Linked DNA regions of Homo sapiens: region 2 is linked to region 1. A link means that fine-mapping ties the variant in region 1 to the expression of a gene that starts in the linked region. Tissue or cell type: whole blood. Region 1 holds a variant in brackets; the other region holds the start of a gene. All regions are shown on one strand. Distances are between the middles of the regions.

What was found. PIP is the estimated chance that this variant, and not a neighbour inherited with it, causes the effect.
Region 2: it holds the start of CCNDBP1, and the variant in region 1 is fine-mapped to the expression of CCNDBP1 in whole blood (INTERVAL, PIP above 0.99).

The regions. Positions count from the first base shown.
Region 1 is chr15:42,588,599-42,596,702 of GRCh38, reverse strand. The region is part of intron 3 of STARD9 (StAR related lipid transfer domain containing 9); the gene reads right to left. Among named protein-coding and RNA genes, the nearest start is that of STARD9, 17 kb to the right of the region's middle. The variant C/GATCAC (reference allele first, on the strand shown) is at 4,630.
Region 2 is chr15:43,182,103-43,190,190 of GRCh38, reverse strand. It overlaps CCNDBP1 (cyclin D1 binding protein 1), which reads right to left and starts at 4,788. Exons shown (of 11, transcript NM_012142.5): 1 at 4,584-4,788; 2 at 4,312-4,371; 3 at 3,958-4,037; 4 at 911-992; 5 at 40-136. The coding sequence starts at 4,692. TMEM62 (transmembrane protein 62) reads right to left here. Exons shown (of 14, transcript NM_024956.4): 14 at 5,047-5,931. The coding sequence ends at 5,605. LOC124903478 (a long non-coding RNA gene) reads left to right here and starts at 4,304. Exons shown (of 2, transcript XR_007064604.1): 1 at 4,304-4,422. RefSeq lists an enhancer at 4,183-4,282 and silencers at 4,453-4,542, 4,763-5,062.

The sequences.
Region 1 (8,104 bases):
CTTTTCTGAATGTTGTATTTAGAAGGAGCCTTTTGTTGGTCAGCTACACTGGCTCCCCCAAACAGAGGACTACAGAAATGGGGTTAAGAGGGTACTTGGACACAGGCTTACTGTGCAAGTATGTGGGAAGAAAATTTAGCACCTGTTAGCAGTCTGCCTGTGCATGCCTGTCTACTGTGGTGGACATACAGATCTTTTGCTCAAAGGGCTGCTGTTCATTTTATATCCTCTCGTTTAGAAGATTTTGCAAATCATTTTGTCCAAAGACTCTCAAAGTAATCATCACCATCATCATACTTCTCTTCCTCAAGCAATTAATTGACAATCGCTTTAAACCCAGGACAAACCCAAGTTTAAGGTGCAAAGGGTGAGTATAAGGAATTTTCAGCATTGCAGATCCAAGCAAGAGAAAAATGGGGTAACATCAAGGACAACTGTCTTAGGAACTCTCCATTTATGCTTAGGCTGCCCTTGGTCATCTGCAAATGACTATCAAGCTTTGGGCATGTCTCCCCTACAGATAACCTCTCTCTCCAGCCTGGATCTCAAGGGCTCTAGCTACCACAAGGAATTTCCATTACCCTTGTCTTACAGGGGGAAAAATCCACATAAGCTTTGGCATTTTAAAAGATTTCTCTAGTTTCCACTGTTCATTTTTGCATAGTCATGTGCCACGAGCAGCAAACATTGTCAAGAATCTCTGTCTTTCAGATGTTTCTACGAGTCTGAAAATTACTCTTTAAAGATTCACAGTCAAGTTTCTAAAGACGGAAAAAACAAGTTAGATTAAAATCCAGCTCACAGACATGCTTATGGAACCAAACAGCTGTGCTGCTGGCAGAGGGACATACTGAAACACTCATGGTAACCCCTCCCATCTTCCACTCAGCTCTGCAGAGCCCCATCTGATTACTGCACAAAAAGGCTTTTTCTTATAAACTTCTCTCCCTTCGACTTCTGTCTCCATCTTGGTTGGAAAAAAACCAGCACTAGTGATGGAATGTACAAAGCTCTGCAAATATTCATGAGAAAATGCTGCTTTGAATCCACATACTCCCCAGCTCCCCTAGCACATACATGCATCAGAAAAAGGGGATGCACAAAGAAACTGATTGGCATCTGTGGTTCTTTAACTTAGGCAAATTATGAGGCCTTCCCAAAACAGGCAGCAAAATTCAAGAAGGCAGAGTCCTATCTTGTCAGTCATACATTGAACCTTTAATTGAATAATTAATCTAATAGCCATTGATTGATAATGGAAGATGTGCAGCACTGGAAATACAGGAATAGAGTTGTATGTGGTATAGTGTGCGAGAGCTTGGACCATGGAGTCACATAGTCAAGGTTTGATTGCTGCGTCCATCACTTGGTTGTATGACCTTAAGCAATAATGCAACAAATCTGAGCCTGTTCCTATCCCTAAAATGGAGATACCTGCTGTAAAAAAGTGACACAATCCTAACAGTGCCCACCCCTCTGTGAGCTCTCAAATTCCTCCTCACCTTAGTTTGTTCCTCATGTTTCCCTCTCCTCTAGCCCCTCAAAGGTCCCTCCTCAGTTTCAGTCATTCTTCCACCTTCCCCAAAACCTTCATTCACACTCCAAGTTCAGCAGATACAAGAAAAGTAAGGCATAAAAGAAGGGAAGGTCACACTCCATCTCTCCAGCTCATCCTGCGTACTTTCTGAGGCAGCAGATAACAGATCACTTGTTATCATTTTGTAATGGGTTGGGGTTTCCCAAACAGAAATGCTGCTTTTATGGCAGCAGTATCTAATCACACCTGGTCACATTAGAGAACGCATAACAACAGGTATGGAATACTTCCCCATACTACTAGATGGCAATAGGGCAATTTCCTCATCCCAGTTGACTACAGAGCCAGGGACAGGTTAGATCTAAAGAACAAGATCTTTCCTTGAGATTCTGCTAGTGGCACATTACCTGTTATGCTAGGACCATTGTGTTGCAGTCCATGGCCCCTACCATTAGAATAAACAACAGGATTTCCCAGCCACATCAAGAACAATTCTGGACTGGCCAAAAAGAAAACAAACAAACAAAAAAAACTTCTAACTGTTATTTTGTCTCTCTAGACCTTCAATCTGAAAAAGTAAGTATCTTGAATGGTCTCTTAACATTTCTTCCAGTATTAATATTCTGGAATTCTAAAGTCAAGCTATTTAGCTACTATGTATCAGGATTCAAAAATTCTGTACAAGTTACTCTTCGTGTCCTAATTACGTACAATTTTCTGCAATTTAACTGAAATCTCTTTTATCCTAATGAAAACAAAGACCAGCTGGTTCTCATGTTCCAGAAAAAAACTCCTCATGTTCAGTACTTATGGAGCATTATCATCTCTGCCTTCCCATCGCAGGATCAACATTCCTTTACTGAATAATCGCATGTGGAATGCCCATGAGGTATACTACACTAATAGTGGCTCCTCTTGGTTCCTGCAGTCCAGCTCTGTAATCATTTGGGGGAGTATGTGTGGTTTCCCTCTGAAGCCTCTCCAGGTTCCTGACATCCTCACACTGAAGTCCAGAATTGGAAAAGATATTCACCAAAGAATCTATAGCACACTCTCTTTTCTCCGTCTGTCTGTCTCTCTCACTCTCACTTGCTCACTCTCTCTCAGGGCTCCTTGACATAAGTAATGATGTATTCTGTGTGTTGTTTGATGTTCAGTATATTGTGGAGACCAAATAAATATTAAAACAACAAGAAGCACAACCACGCGGTGGCTCACGCCTGTAATCCCAGAACTTTGGGAGGCCGAGGCGGGCGGATCATGAGGTCAGGAGATCAAGACCATTCTGGCTAACACGGAGAAACCCCGTCTCTACTAAAAATACAAAAAAAAAAGTTAGCCGGGCGTGGTGGCGGGCGCCTGTAGTCCCAGCTACTCAGGAGGCTGAGACAGGAGAATGGCGTGGACCTGGGAGGCAGAGCTTGCAGTGAGCCGAGATTGTACCACTGCACTCCAGCCTGGGCAACAGAGTGAGACTCTGTCTCAAAAAAAAAAAAAAAAAAAAAAAAAAAGAAGCACAACCATATTACTACTAAAATACTTTCAATTTTGGAGACAGTGGTTGTTTTGAATTCAGACAAAAATCTCCTGCTCACTCAACATGATTTTTTTTTTGGTCTGGAAATGCTACAAGTGTTTTAGCTAAATAACAGACCATTTTAAAATAAAGATTTCCAGAAGAATAGGAGCAATTCTTTCCATGAAGAGCGGTTAGCTTTTTGTTCATAGACATGATTTTTGTTGACTCAGTCTGCATTTGTTTTAAACAGCCACTTTCAGGCCCTGGTGGGTAAAGCTGAGCTAATACTCCTCATGGAAAGTTTTACAAACACACAGTCACCCAAACACAATACGCCGGAGCAGAGGATTCCTGCGCCAACAGATGTTCCTCACCAGGAGGAAGGGAGGGAAGTTAGTTTTCCAAATGGAGCAGGATGGTCCCAGAAGGGATCATAACCAGATTCAGAAAAGAGGTTTCCAAATCTAGTTCAACTCAGAAAAATATCATGAGCCTTGCTTCTCTTGTACTACGTATGATAATGGTAATCACGGCAGGGACCCAAGGCACAGCACTCATAAACTCATTTGACGCCGAGGTGCCAAGTACTGGGCTGGGCACTTTAATTATTTCATTTCCTCCTCACAATAACTCTTTGAGGCATATATGATCTCTATTTTAGAGCTGAAGAAACTAGAAAGCAAAGAGGATAAGCAACTTGCCCAAAGTAAGCTAGCCAATAACTGACTGCCTGAATTCAAGTCCAGGTTTAATTTCAGAGAAGCAAATTGACTTTAATACAGATTCAAGCCAGAAAAAATACAGGCCAATTTTGAAGAAAAGCTTCTGCTGCAAGTCCAAATATTAACAAATACTGAAAACAGCATTTAGACCAATAATGACTTGCCTTAAGAATGGAAAGCTGGCTGGGTGTGGTGGCTCACGCCTGTAATCCCAGCACTTTGGGAGGCTGAGGTGGGCAGATCACTTGAGATCCGGAGTTCGAGACGAGCCTGGCCAACATGGAGAAACCCGTCTCTACTACAAATACAAAAATTAGCCGGGTGTGGTGGCACACACCTGTAATCCCAGCTACTCGGGAGGCGGAGGCAGGAGAATTGCTAGAAACCGGAAGGCGGAGATTGCAGTGAGCTAAGATCGCACCACTGCACTCCAGCCTGGGTGACAGAGTGAGACTCTGTCTCAAAAAATAAAAAAAAGAAAAAAGAAAAAGAAAAAAAACAGGAAGCTGACACCAGGGTCAAGGAGTAATGGACAAGACAGGTACTATAGAGATCTCCAACCACATCCCATTCACTATAGTCTTTTCTCTCCCCTTCTCCAGTTTTCCATCGCTTCCTTTTCCCATATCCTTCATTTTCCTTTTGTACTGCAGCATAGTGTTGAATATGAACTTTGCAGTCAGATGATCCTGTGTTCAAATCTAGAACTCACATCTTACTGTGTAACTTTGGCAGATCATATAACTTCTCTAAGCCTAAATTTCCTCCACTATAAAAGGGGGATAAAATCCTCTACCTTTTAGGGTATTTAAGAAATTATATCAAATATACATAAAGAGATGATCAGATCA[C/GATCAC]TAGTAGGCTAAATGGTATTTCTTTTTGAGAGTCAGTGAGGTTTAGTGGAAATGACATAAAATTTAGAGTTAAACAGTCTTGAATTTGAATTCTTGCTCCACCACTTACTGGCAAGTCCTATAAACGTTCTATGCCTCAGTTTCCTTATCTACAAAATGGAGTAAATAATATAGATCTAATAGAACGTGAATGAAGTGATAAACATTTACAATTGTATCTGGCTATCAATAGGCATTTAACAAATAAAGCTGCTTCTCAGTAGAACTTGCAGTAGCTGACTTGTCCTCTAGTAGTCCCTAGTTGGTGACAACTGATCTATTTACTCAGGCATTTCACCACTAAGGACCAGGAAGAGTGCCAAAGCACTAAGGAATTTTAACTTTGAACCTATCTTTTGAGGCTGTAAATATAAAAAGACAGAGAATGATACAATGCAATAAAAAGACCACCATAAGGAAGCCTGGGTCTGTTCCAGCTTGAGCACTAACCACCTGTATAATGCCATAAATTACATGGCCAGATCTGTAACATATGAGGGTTGGCCTAGATTAGTGGCTAATGTCCAGACATTTTTTTTTTTTTTTTAAGATGGACTCTTGCTCTGTTGCCCTGGCTGGAGTGCAGTGGTGCGATCTCGGCTTACTGCAACCACCGCTTCCCGGGTTAAAGCAATTCTCCTGCTTCAGCCTCCCGAGTAGCTCGGATTACAGGCATGCACCACCATGCCTGGCTATTTTCTGTATCTTTAGTAGAGACAGGGTTTCGCCACGTTGGCCAGGCTGGTCTTGAACTCCTGACCTCAGGTGATCCACCCGCCTTGGCCTCCCAAAGTGCTAGGATTACAGGCGTGAGCCACTGTGCTCAGCCTGGACATGTTTTTTATTGTCACAGTTGGGGGATTGCTACTGGCATCAAGTGGGTAGAGGCCAGGAATGCTGCTAAACATTCTACAATGCACAGTACAGACCCCCACAACAAAGAATTATATGGTCAAAATGTCAACAGCGCTGAGGTCAACAAACTCTGGCCTAGATGACTAACAAGTTCTCTTCAAACTCTAACATACTAAGAGGCTATGACAAGGCAGCACTGACACAGTTTGTGCATCTGTCCCCTCCAAATCTCATGTTGAAATGTGACCCCCAATGTTGGAGCTGGGGCCTGCTGAGAAGTGTTTGGGTCATGGGGACAGATCCCTCATGAATGGCCTGGTCCCCTCCCCACAGTAATGAGTGCGTTCTTGCTCTATTAGTTCACACTGGAGCTGACTGTTTAAGAGAGTGGCCTCCCTCCCATCTCTCGCTCTCTCTCTCTCGCTGTGACAAGACTGTCTCCTTCCCCTTCTGTTACAACTGGATGCTCTCTGAACCCTCAGCAACAGCAGATACTGGCACAATACTTTCTATAAAGCCTGCAGAATTGTGAGCCAAATAAACCTCTTTTCTTTATAAATTACTAAGCCTCAGGTATTCCTTTATAACACAAAATAGACTAACACAAGCACCAACACTGATCAGGTGACATTCTTGTCAACATCTACCTCTGAATGGCTTCTTAAGATGCTGCTCTAAATCCCCCTAAAGTCAGATATTTAGATACTCCCTCCATATCCACTAAGGGAAATTTAGATAGTTCCCTCAGATATTTTGATATCTGAAATCAATGCCATATTTCTGAGCAGTCCTTCCTTTGTAATAAGAAGAAACCTAGGGATGAAAGACACACTGTATCCTTTATAGTTAGAATCCATGCTTCCAAAGTCATGAGATTCCTTCTGGGAGAGCAGATAATTTAAATAAATATGAATCAAGGTCAGGTGTGGTGGCTCACACCTGTAATCCCAGCACTTTGAGAGGCCAAGGCAGGCAGATCGTTTGAGCCCAGGAGTTTGAGACCAGCCTGAGCAACACAGTGAGACCACATTTCTACAAAAACTACAAAACTTAGCCGAGCATGGTGGCACACGTATCTGTAGTCCCAGCTACTCAGGAGGCTGAGGTGGGAGGATCACTTAAGTTCAGGAGGTTGAGGCTGCAGTGAGCTGTGACTGCGCCACCCTACTCCAGCCTGAGTGACAGAGCGAGACCCGGTCTCAACAAAAAAAAAAAAAAAAAAAAAAAGAATCAAGGTTAGAAGATGTGACACACACAACAGTAAAGATGAATCTTGGCCAGGTGTGGTGGCTCACGCCTGTAATCCCAGCACTTTGGGAGGCCAAGGCAGGTGGATCACAAGGTCAGGAGTTTGAGACCAGGCTGGCCAACATAGTGAAACCCCGTCTCTACTAAAAATAAAAAAATTAGCTGGGCATGGTGGCAGGCGCCTGTAATCCCAGCTACTCAGGAGGCTGAGGCCAGAGAATCACTTGAAACCAGAAGGTGGAGGTTGCAGTGAGCCATGATCGCACCACTGCGCTCCAGCCTAGGCAACAAGAGCGAAACTCCATTTAAAAAAAAAAAAAAAAAGATGAATCTCAAATACATCACGCAAAGTGAAAGAAGCCAGATTCAAACAACTACATACTGTTTGATTCCATTTTTATGACGTTCTGGAACTGATAAAACTGTAGGGACAGAAAACAGATCAGTAATTGTGAGGGCCTGGGGAAATAGACTATAAAAGAGCATGAAGCAATTTTTGGGATGATAGACTATTTTGTATATTGATTGTAGTGTCAGTTACACACCTGAATGTGTTACTGTACATTAAAAAGGTGAATTTGGCCAAGCGTGGTGACTCATGCCTATAATCCCAACACTTTGGGAAGCCAAGGCGGGAGGATCACTTGAGCCCAGGAGCTCAAGACCAGCCTAGACAATACAGCAAGACCCTATCTCTATTAAAAATAATAATAAATAATTGTTAAAAAAGAAAAAAAGGTAAATCTTTCACTATATCTAAATTATACTTCAATAGACTGACCCCTCCTCTCAAAATTTGATCACTAATGCTGTGGAGAGCTGGATGTGGTGGCTCACACCTGTAATCCCAGCACTTTGGGAGGCCAAGGCAGGTGGATTACTTGAGGTCAGGAGTTCGAGACCAGCCTAGCCAACATGGCGAAACCCTGTCTCTACTAAAAATACAAAAATCAGTTGAGCATGGTGGCACACGCTTGTAGTCCCAGCTACTCAGGAGGCTGAGGCACAAGAATCGCTGGAACCCAGGAGGCGGAGGTTGCAGCGAGCCAAGATTGAGCCACTGTACTCCAGCCTGGGTGACTAAGACTCTGTCCACACACCCCCACCCCCCACTCCAAAAAAAAAAAAAAAAAAAAAAAAAAAAAAAAAAAAAAACGCTGTGAAGAGGATAAACTGGGTTACATCCAAATTCTTTTCCACCCCAAGTCCTAAGATTGTATAGATTCCACCTTTCTTACCCGTCCGTGGTGGCCTCAGAGCCATAGTGATTAGGGTTAAACCTGAGCTCCAATTTCTGTGTTAAAGCAATGAGGGCCTCTGATTGTATCATGTA
Region 2 (8,088 bases), 590 kb before region 1:
AACCCCAATAACTGGTAACCTAAACTGTGGCATCACTACCTCTGAGTTGGAGTGACGGAAAGTACTTCCATGAGCTGAGCCATGCCATCCACGATGTCCAGGGTGGCGCCCCGTACCAGCTTTCTCAGGGTGATCCCTGTGGCCAAACCCAAAGAATAAGCAACCTGGTGTTCTTTTCAGAAGCACCATCTGCTTTCCTGAGTCTAAGCATTACAGAACTATAAGGTAATGTACACCCACATGCTTTAACCTACATGCTAACACAAAACTCAGGTCTTACTTATATCCCCATGGCATTTTCTTGCCCCTCCTGCCATTCCTTAGTGTTTTCTTCAAAAGAGATTTGGAACAAAATCTTTCCGTGACACCATGTATTCATTCATTAAGGACCGTGATCTCTTAACAACTGTAGATGAAACACTTGAAGTTTAAGCCACTTGAGTAACCCTGAAGATCCATGACATGTATTCAGTTATAATTTTGGCATGATTATAATCAATGCATGATTCTACAGGCAGGGCTGGAGGCCATTTAACCTATGCAGATGTTCAGAAATAGGGTGAGATATAACATGGGTGGAGGAAAGTAAGGATGGCCTGAGCCTGCATATGGGGCTGAGAGCCAGCCAGTATCTGTGGTGTTAAAACGGGTTGAAGAGGGAGAAGGCTGTGAGAATTAAAAGCCTTATGAGTCAGGCAAGGCAGGGGAGATGGGAAGTCATAGGAACAAAGCATCTGTATCTTAGAATAATGGCTTGTTTATATAAGTCACTTACATTACAAAATTATCCTTCACTGTATTTTATGGGAGAAAGTTACATGTTCAAGTTGGGTAAAGGTAAAAGTCACAAGACATAATCCACAATATTAGCAAAGATCTACACGATAAATGCAACACTTATGTGGCTTACCCTGATCCTTTGGAAGCAAATAGTACACTGCAATAAATGCCTTGATGGCAGCATGGACTTGTTCACAGAACTTCTGGGTTTCCTATGAAAAAGGAAACAGATTAGATCAAAGTGGTCAACCCTTCTGCTGTGGAATAGAGCAGATATTTCTTTTCTTTTTCTTTTCTTTCTTTTTCTTTTTTTTTTTTTTTTTTTTTTTTTTTGAGACAGAGTCTCACTCTGTCACCCAGGCTGGAGTGCAATGGCGCAATCTTGGCTCACTGCAACCTCCACCTCCCAGGTTCAAGCAGTTCTCCTGCCTCAGCCTCCCAAGTAGCTGGGATTACAGGCACCCGCCACCACACCCAGCTAATTTTTTGTATTTTTAGTAGAGATGGGGTTTTGCCACACTGGCCACACTGGTCTCGAACTCCTGACCTCAGGTGATCCACCTCCCTTGGCCTCCCAAAGTGCTGAGATTACAGGTGTAAGCCACTGCACCCGGCCTAGGGCAGATATTTCTACAGCATCATCAAACATTTTCTGAAGTCCTGGTATGAAGGCAGGCCTACTATACTCATCACATACCAGGGAGGAGTTAGCTATATAGTAGATATTGGGCTGACAACTCAATAAACCATTAAGAAACAGCAGGAAAAAACTTATTCCTGATACTCTGTATCCCAAGATATTCATGATATCTTAGACCAGGAGCTGGCAAACTGTGGTCCTCAGGCCAAGTCAGGCCCCACTGCCTGTTTTTGGAAATGAAGTGTATTGGGACACAGCCATACTCACTGGTTTTAATGTCTGTAGTTGTGTTTGCTCTATAAGGGCAGAGTTGGGTAGTTGGTTACAAAATCTAAAATATTTACTAACTGGCCCTTTACAGAAAAGAGAGGGAGGGAGAGAGACAGACAGACCAACTGACAGACCATGGTTATTAAACCATTAACCAGGTCTCTCTCTTTTTTTAACAGAATCAGAATATGTAACTAAAGGTAACTAGCATGGACTCGACAATGCTCCATGTTAACTATTTTCCTTCTAGGTGGTCACTGGCTTTCTCATCTTCCTTGTCCTCAATTTTCTGTTAAATTCTAAGTCAATACTATACAAATGTGGTCCAGGTTGGAGCCAGTCTACAAACTGTTTGTGACCAGTCAGGGATGAGATAAGCAGTGACTGAGAGTGTTTAGAAACTTTTATGGCAATTTGACATTTATTCAACATCCGAGCACATAATTTTATTAAAGTATCATTCCATACAGATTGGAATTTAAAAAACAACAACAACAACAAAAAAAAACCAACAACCACCCATCTTTTAGTAGGACTAAAGTGGTGAGATCTCAAGAAGGCAATGATGATTCATGTGTATGTATGTGTGTATATACACACATATATACATATATGTATTTATTTGAATATATGTATATACTTGAATATTTGTATATATTTCAAATAAATCCAAATTCTAACTTTTCATCTATGAGTGAAACTACTGTCCTGAGCATGTATAGAAAATCAGTTCTATGCTGCCTCCTTGTGGTATCTTACTTGCAGTGAGTTTTAGCAGCAAGTCCTAAGTGCATTTGAAAGAAAGGGGTTAGCAGATAAGAAAAATAAGGTAATATTAACTACTCTTTTTGAAATAAGTATTTTCCATGAATCTTTTGAAGTGCTCTCATACAATTCATCTCTTGTTTCCTCATCACAAATCTCAAAGGTAGGCCAGGCACGGTGGCTCACACCTGTAATCCCAACACTGTGGGAGGCCAAGGCAGGCGGATCACTTGAGGTCAGGAGTTCGAGACTAGCCTGCCCAACATGGTGAAACCCCGTCTCAACTAAAAATACAAAAATTAGCCAGGCGTGGTGACAGGTGCCTGTAATCCCAGCTACTCGAGAGGCTGAGGCAGGAGAACTGCTTGAACCCGGTAGGCAGAGGATGCAGTGAGCCCAGACTGTGCCACTGCACTCCAGCCTGAGTGACAGAGAGAGACTCTGTCTCAAAAAAAAAAAAAAAATCTCAAAGGTATGTAGGAGGAGAGAGTTTATCACTGTAGGTACATGCAGCAGAAGATATTTATATCCTTTCCAAACACCTATATATGTAGACTGAAAAATTAAAACAATTGACTATGAAAATCAAATAAGGCAATGAATATGCCATTTTAAAAGAATCTTACTCCTATATTAAGCATACACAACTCTAGAAAAACTGAGCATAGAGCATACGTGGTCATAGCCAACATGTTTACTTTCATTAGTTTTATAATAAAGGAATATTTAAAATGCATAAATCTTTGTTCTAGCAATTCTACTTCCGGGAATTTTTTCTACCAATATACACACATACACAGAATTAGGTAATTCATCACGACACTGTTTGCAGTAATTCTAAGTTGGAAGGTCCAGAACAGTGTTTATGTATCATTTGTGTAAAAAGAAGCTGACACATACAGATAAATGTATATGAATGTATATATGCACAGAATATACGTGGAATAATGCAAAAGGAACTGGGGGAGACAAAAATGAGAAAGTGGGTGGAAAGGTAAACTTAACACACTTTGATATCTGTTGAATTTTGTACTATCTACATATGTTACTGATTAAATATAAAAAATAATATAAAAAGGGTATTATGCAGTATAACAGAATAGGTAGCTTAGACATCAGATAGACCTTGATTTAAATTCTAGCCCCCCTGCTTTTTTTTAAATCTTAAGCTGAGCTTCTGAGCCTCCTTGCTCATCTGTCAGATGGCCATCAAGTATGTGAAAACACCCAGCAAATAAAAAGTGCTTAAAAAATTATCAGAAGGGAAACAACCAGGATAAACTTCAGACTGAACCAATATTTATAAGACCTGCCTACTCCGCGCCAGGAACTGCACTTGGCAATTCGGTCTTCACAACAATCCTGTGAAGTAAAAACGGTAACCTCACTGGACAGATGAAGAAAAGAAATCTCCTGGCGTGCGTGCAAAAGGTGGAAAGAAAATTAGAGGATTCCTAAGGTGTAACTCGGCAGCCCAAGGATTCCACGAAAGTGAAGCCCACCTGTGGAGACGGCAGTGGAAGCTGAGAGAAGACTATGGTCAGAGTCGTGGCTTCCCTTGACACAGTCACAGCTGCCTCATCTGGGGGGTGGCCGAAGAGGAGGCAGGTGCCAATACGTTAGTGCTGCACGGACTTGGAAGACTTCCCTTACCGACCGAGACTTCTCAAAAACACTTCCCGAATGTCGAGGTTAGAATTCTATTTCACCCTCTCAGGTGCTGAGGTGGGTAAGGTACCTCACAGAAAGGATGCAGCGGGGGAGAGCAGTCCCCTCCGTGGGGGACAGCGGGAGGAAAAGGGGTCGGGACGCTGGAGGAACTGAGGCAAGGGGAGCCCGGAAGGAGGCGCACTCACTGAGTCTTCTCCAGAACATCTCTCGATTAAACTCCTCGGTGGTCTCCTGGGCTTCGCCGACTTGTGGGTGTGGCGTGTGGGGGCCGAACGGTGGCGAATGGAAAAGCTGAGGTAAGCGGAGCCACCTCCCTCGCCCAAGCCCGGCTCCCCGCCGCCGCCCCAGCCCGCCCTCTCCGCGACCCCGAGCCCGGCCTCTCCCCGACCCCGAGCCCGGCCTCTCCCCGACCCCGAGCCCGCCCCTGCCGTCGCCCGTTCTAACTCCGTCAGCTCACCCCGCACTCGAGGCAGGAGCAACCGCAGCTCCTCCGCCAAGTGCCGGAGCTGCTCCAAAGGCGAAGCCAGGGTGGGGACTGCGGCTGCAGGTGCAGTTGCGCTCGCCATCTCAGTCGCTTGCCGAAGGCCGCAAACACAGGCCTCCGCTGCCACTGCCGGAGCCGCACTGCGACAGCCGCTCCACTTCCGGGCCACAGCGTCAAGGGCTCGTTTCCGTCAACAAGCCGTCCAGCCCCGTCCCAGAGGCCCTGCCCTGCCTCCTCCCGCCACGAGGCCCGGCCCCGCCCGAGGTCCAGCACCACCCATCCCGTTATCAGAGACCAGGCCTGGCCCCGCCTCCTCCCGCCCCGCCCTGTCCCCTGAGGTACAGCACCAACCATCCCACTCTCAGAGGCCAGGACAGGCCACGCCTTCTCTTGCCCCTTAGGCCAGGCTACACAAGCAAGCCTCAGGCTCACCGTCTTTCTTATTCATCATTCATTCATTTATTTGATTAGTTGAAAACACTTCCGACTAAGGAAGCAGAGAGCCCACAATCCTGTGGGAAAACAGGCCTGGGAACTAATATCTCAGGGGTAGTGAGGGTCGGGCCCAGATCCTCAAAGGTTCCCTGCCCCTGAAATTGCACCTTTGACAGCTGCTGAATTCCAAGCACAGCGGTAAGTGCTTTACATGGGGTAACCCTAAAAAACACACTGGGCCTCAGACACTCCCGTACACACACCCAACCTCTACCCTGTGGATGTCCTAGATAAGGGTTTTCTCTTCACAAAGGTAAATCAACTCTTTGCCTCCTTAGGGAGGGAAGGAATAAAGGCATTATTTTTGAGACTTTTCTGCAGTCCATTCTGCAGGTATCAGTAGTGGGTAATCCCTCCAACGTCCAGGACTCCAAACGAGCAGCTGCTCCCTAAAGCTCACCCACCAATCCTGGCCCTCCACCTGCTACTGGGGTAGAGGCCTGGGCTACAGACACAGAGGCTGGGCTTCTGCCCAGCTGCCAGTGGTGAGACATGGCCTTCAGGAGCTCAGGTGGCTTTTTAACTGCACCATGAAGATTCCAAACTTGGTGGAGTTCAGTGTCCACACATAACGAATGAGAACAGGTGTCAGCAGTGTCAACCAGGTCCGCAAAGGGGAGAATAAAAAAGCTAGGGTGCCGTATGTTGCATAAAGAAAGTAGCAGGAATAAACCTGCCAGATGTACAGCAGTAGCATAAGTAGGTGAACAGGCATAATTTTCAAGTATTTTCTTTGATGGAGATGAGACCTGAAGTTGTGACCAAAGCACCGCTGCAGCAAGCTCCAACACATGTAAGCCATCAAGGGGATGTTAAAAAACGCCAGCTGGAAAAGAACAGAACCATAGCTTACTCCCAAGTCCTTGGAAGAGTTTGGTCTTAATAATGCATTATTAGTGGATCCTAAGACTATGCTGCTATCTGTCTTGGCGTTAGCTAATTTACTTCAAGCACAGTTGCTTATAACACAACAGCTGACTTGTGGCTAGTTGTGTATTTGCCCATGTCCTTTTATTCATCTTAGAGGCAGGTATCATTTAATTTATGCTGAAGTCCCAACTTGTAGTACAGTATCATATACACAGTTAATACCCAATGGTGTTAAGCTGGAATTGAACTGAGTAAATGTATACACACACATACAACAACCCCTCTTTTTTGGTGGAGTGAGGGGAGGACTTGGCTATCAGTATTTTTTTTCTTACCTCCATTTTTGTTTGAGGTAGCATGATAAGTACTGGAATATAAATTAGAGTATCTAAATTATAATCCAAGTTGAGCTGCTGTATGATTCATTCATTTAACAAATATTTATTGAGCACCCATTATGTAGCAGGCATGAGCTAGGCTCCAAGTTGGGGACACAATGGCAAACAAGTTAGAAAAGGTCCGTCATAGAGCTTACATTCTAACAGGGAGAAGACAGACAAAAAAAAAAACCAAAAAATATAATTACAGATCGTGATTAGTTCAATGAAGGAAAGAACTGGGTCATGAGAAGGTAACTGGGAGAAAGGCTCTCAGAGGCCAGAAGGACAAGAATGAATCAGCGGAGGGAAGTGCATTCTAGGCAGAAGGAACAAATGAAAAGCCCAGAGGTGGGAGAGGTCTTGGCCTCTTTAAGGAAGTGCATGCAGAGCATGAGCCAGGTGGAAATTGGGGCAGTCGGCAGGACCCAGATCACTGCTCTGCTTCAAAGCATTTCAAGCTGAAAAGTAAGTGAGCTGATTGTAAAGTTTTTAAAAGAGCACACTGGATGCTCTGTATTAAGCTGAGAGTAAGGAGGCAAGAATATCAGGGAGAAGACCCAGGCAAGAAATAATTACAACTTAGATTAGGAAAACAGAAATGGAGAGAAGTGGATGGATTCAAGATATGCATTGGAAGCAGATCAAATAAGGTAGAGCTTGCTGGTGAAATAGATACAGGGTATGAAGGAAAGGGAATAATTGAGGATACATCTTGGAGAAATCAGGTGAATGGTGGAGTCATTTATTAAAACTGGAAAAACAGAGAGGAACAGGTTTGGGGTGGAAATAATGTTCCTATCAGAGAGACATCACATGAAGTTGAGATGCCTGTTAGACATCTGTGGCCATTGGATATAGAGGCACTTGAAGTGCAGAGAAGAGGTCTAGATCAGAGATATAGATTTGGGATTCATGGGTCTGGATGATACATAAAATCCATTATTAGTGTACTATTTATTAGAATATGAATGTAAACATTTACAAAGGAAAAAACCCTGCCTTTTGGTAAGGCTCAGGATTCATTTGGTATGAGAGAGCTCCTTAGAGACAGCCTCCATCAACATAATAGAAAACTGCAATGAGGCTGGGTGCAGTGGCTCACGCCTGTAATCCCAGCACTTTGGGAGGCCGAGACGGGCGGATCACCTGAGGTCAGGAGTTCGAGACCATCCTGGCCAACACAGTGAAACCCTGTCTCTACTAAAAATACAAAAATTAGCCGGGCATGGTGGCAGGCACCTGTAACCCCAGCTACATGGGAGGCTGAGGCAGGAGAATCACTTGAATTAGGGAGGCAGAGGTTGCAGTGAGCCGAGACGATGCCATTGCACTCCAGCCTGGACGACAAGATCGAGACTCCATCTCAAAAAAAAAAAAAAAAAGAAAAGAAAAGAAAAGAAAACTGAAATGAACCCAGGACCTACTCATGTATATAATGCTGCTATGCAGAGAATATTCTGGACTTGGGTCAGTGTTTGCTAGGCAGAAGTCTTTCCTACTTGGCTGTCTCTAATCCTGTTGGATCATGTTCTACTGCCCTGTTAGAAGGCCATGAACTTATTTTGAATGTTTTTGGATCTCTTCCAAAACTTCAAATTTTGGTCCACTAACTCCATTAGGTGAGTAAAATAAAGAAACTGTTAGATAAATACTTTTCAAATCTGTTTATGTAGTTTTTCTATGGATCAAGGTTCTTTGTGTGTTTATTTTAAAGGAATCAAATGTAAACCTAA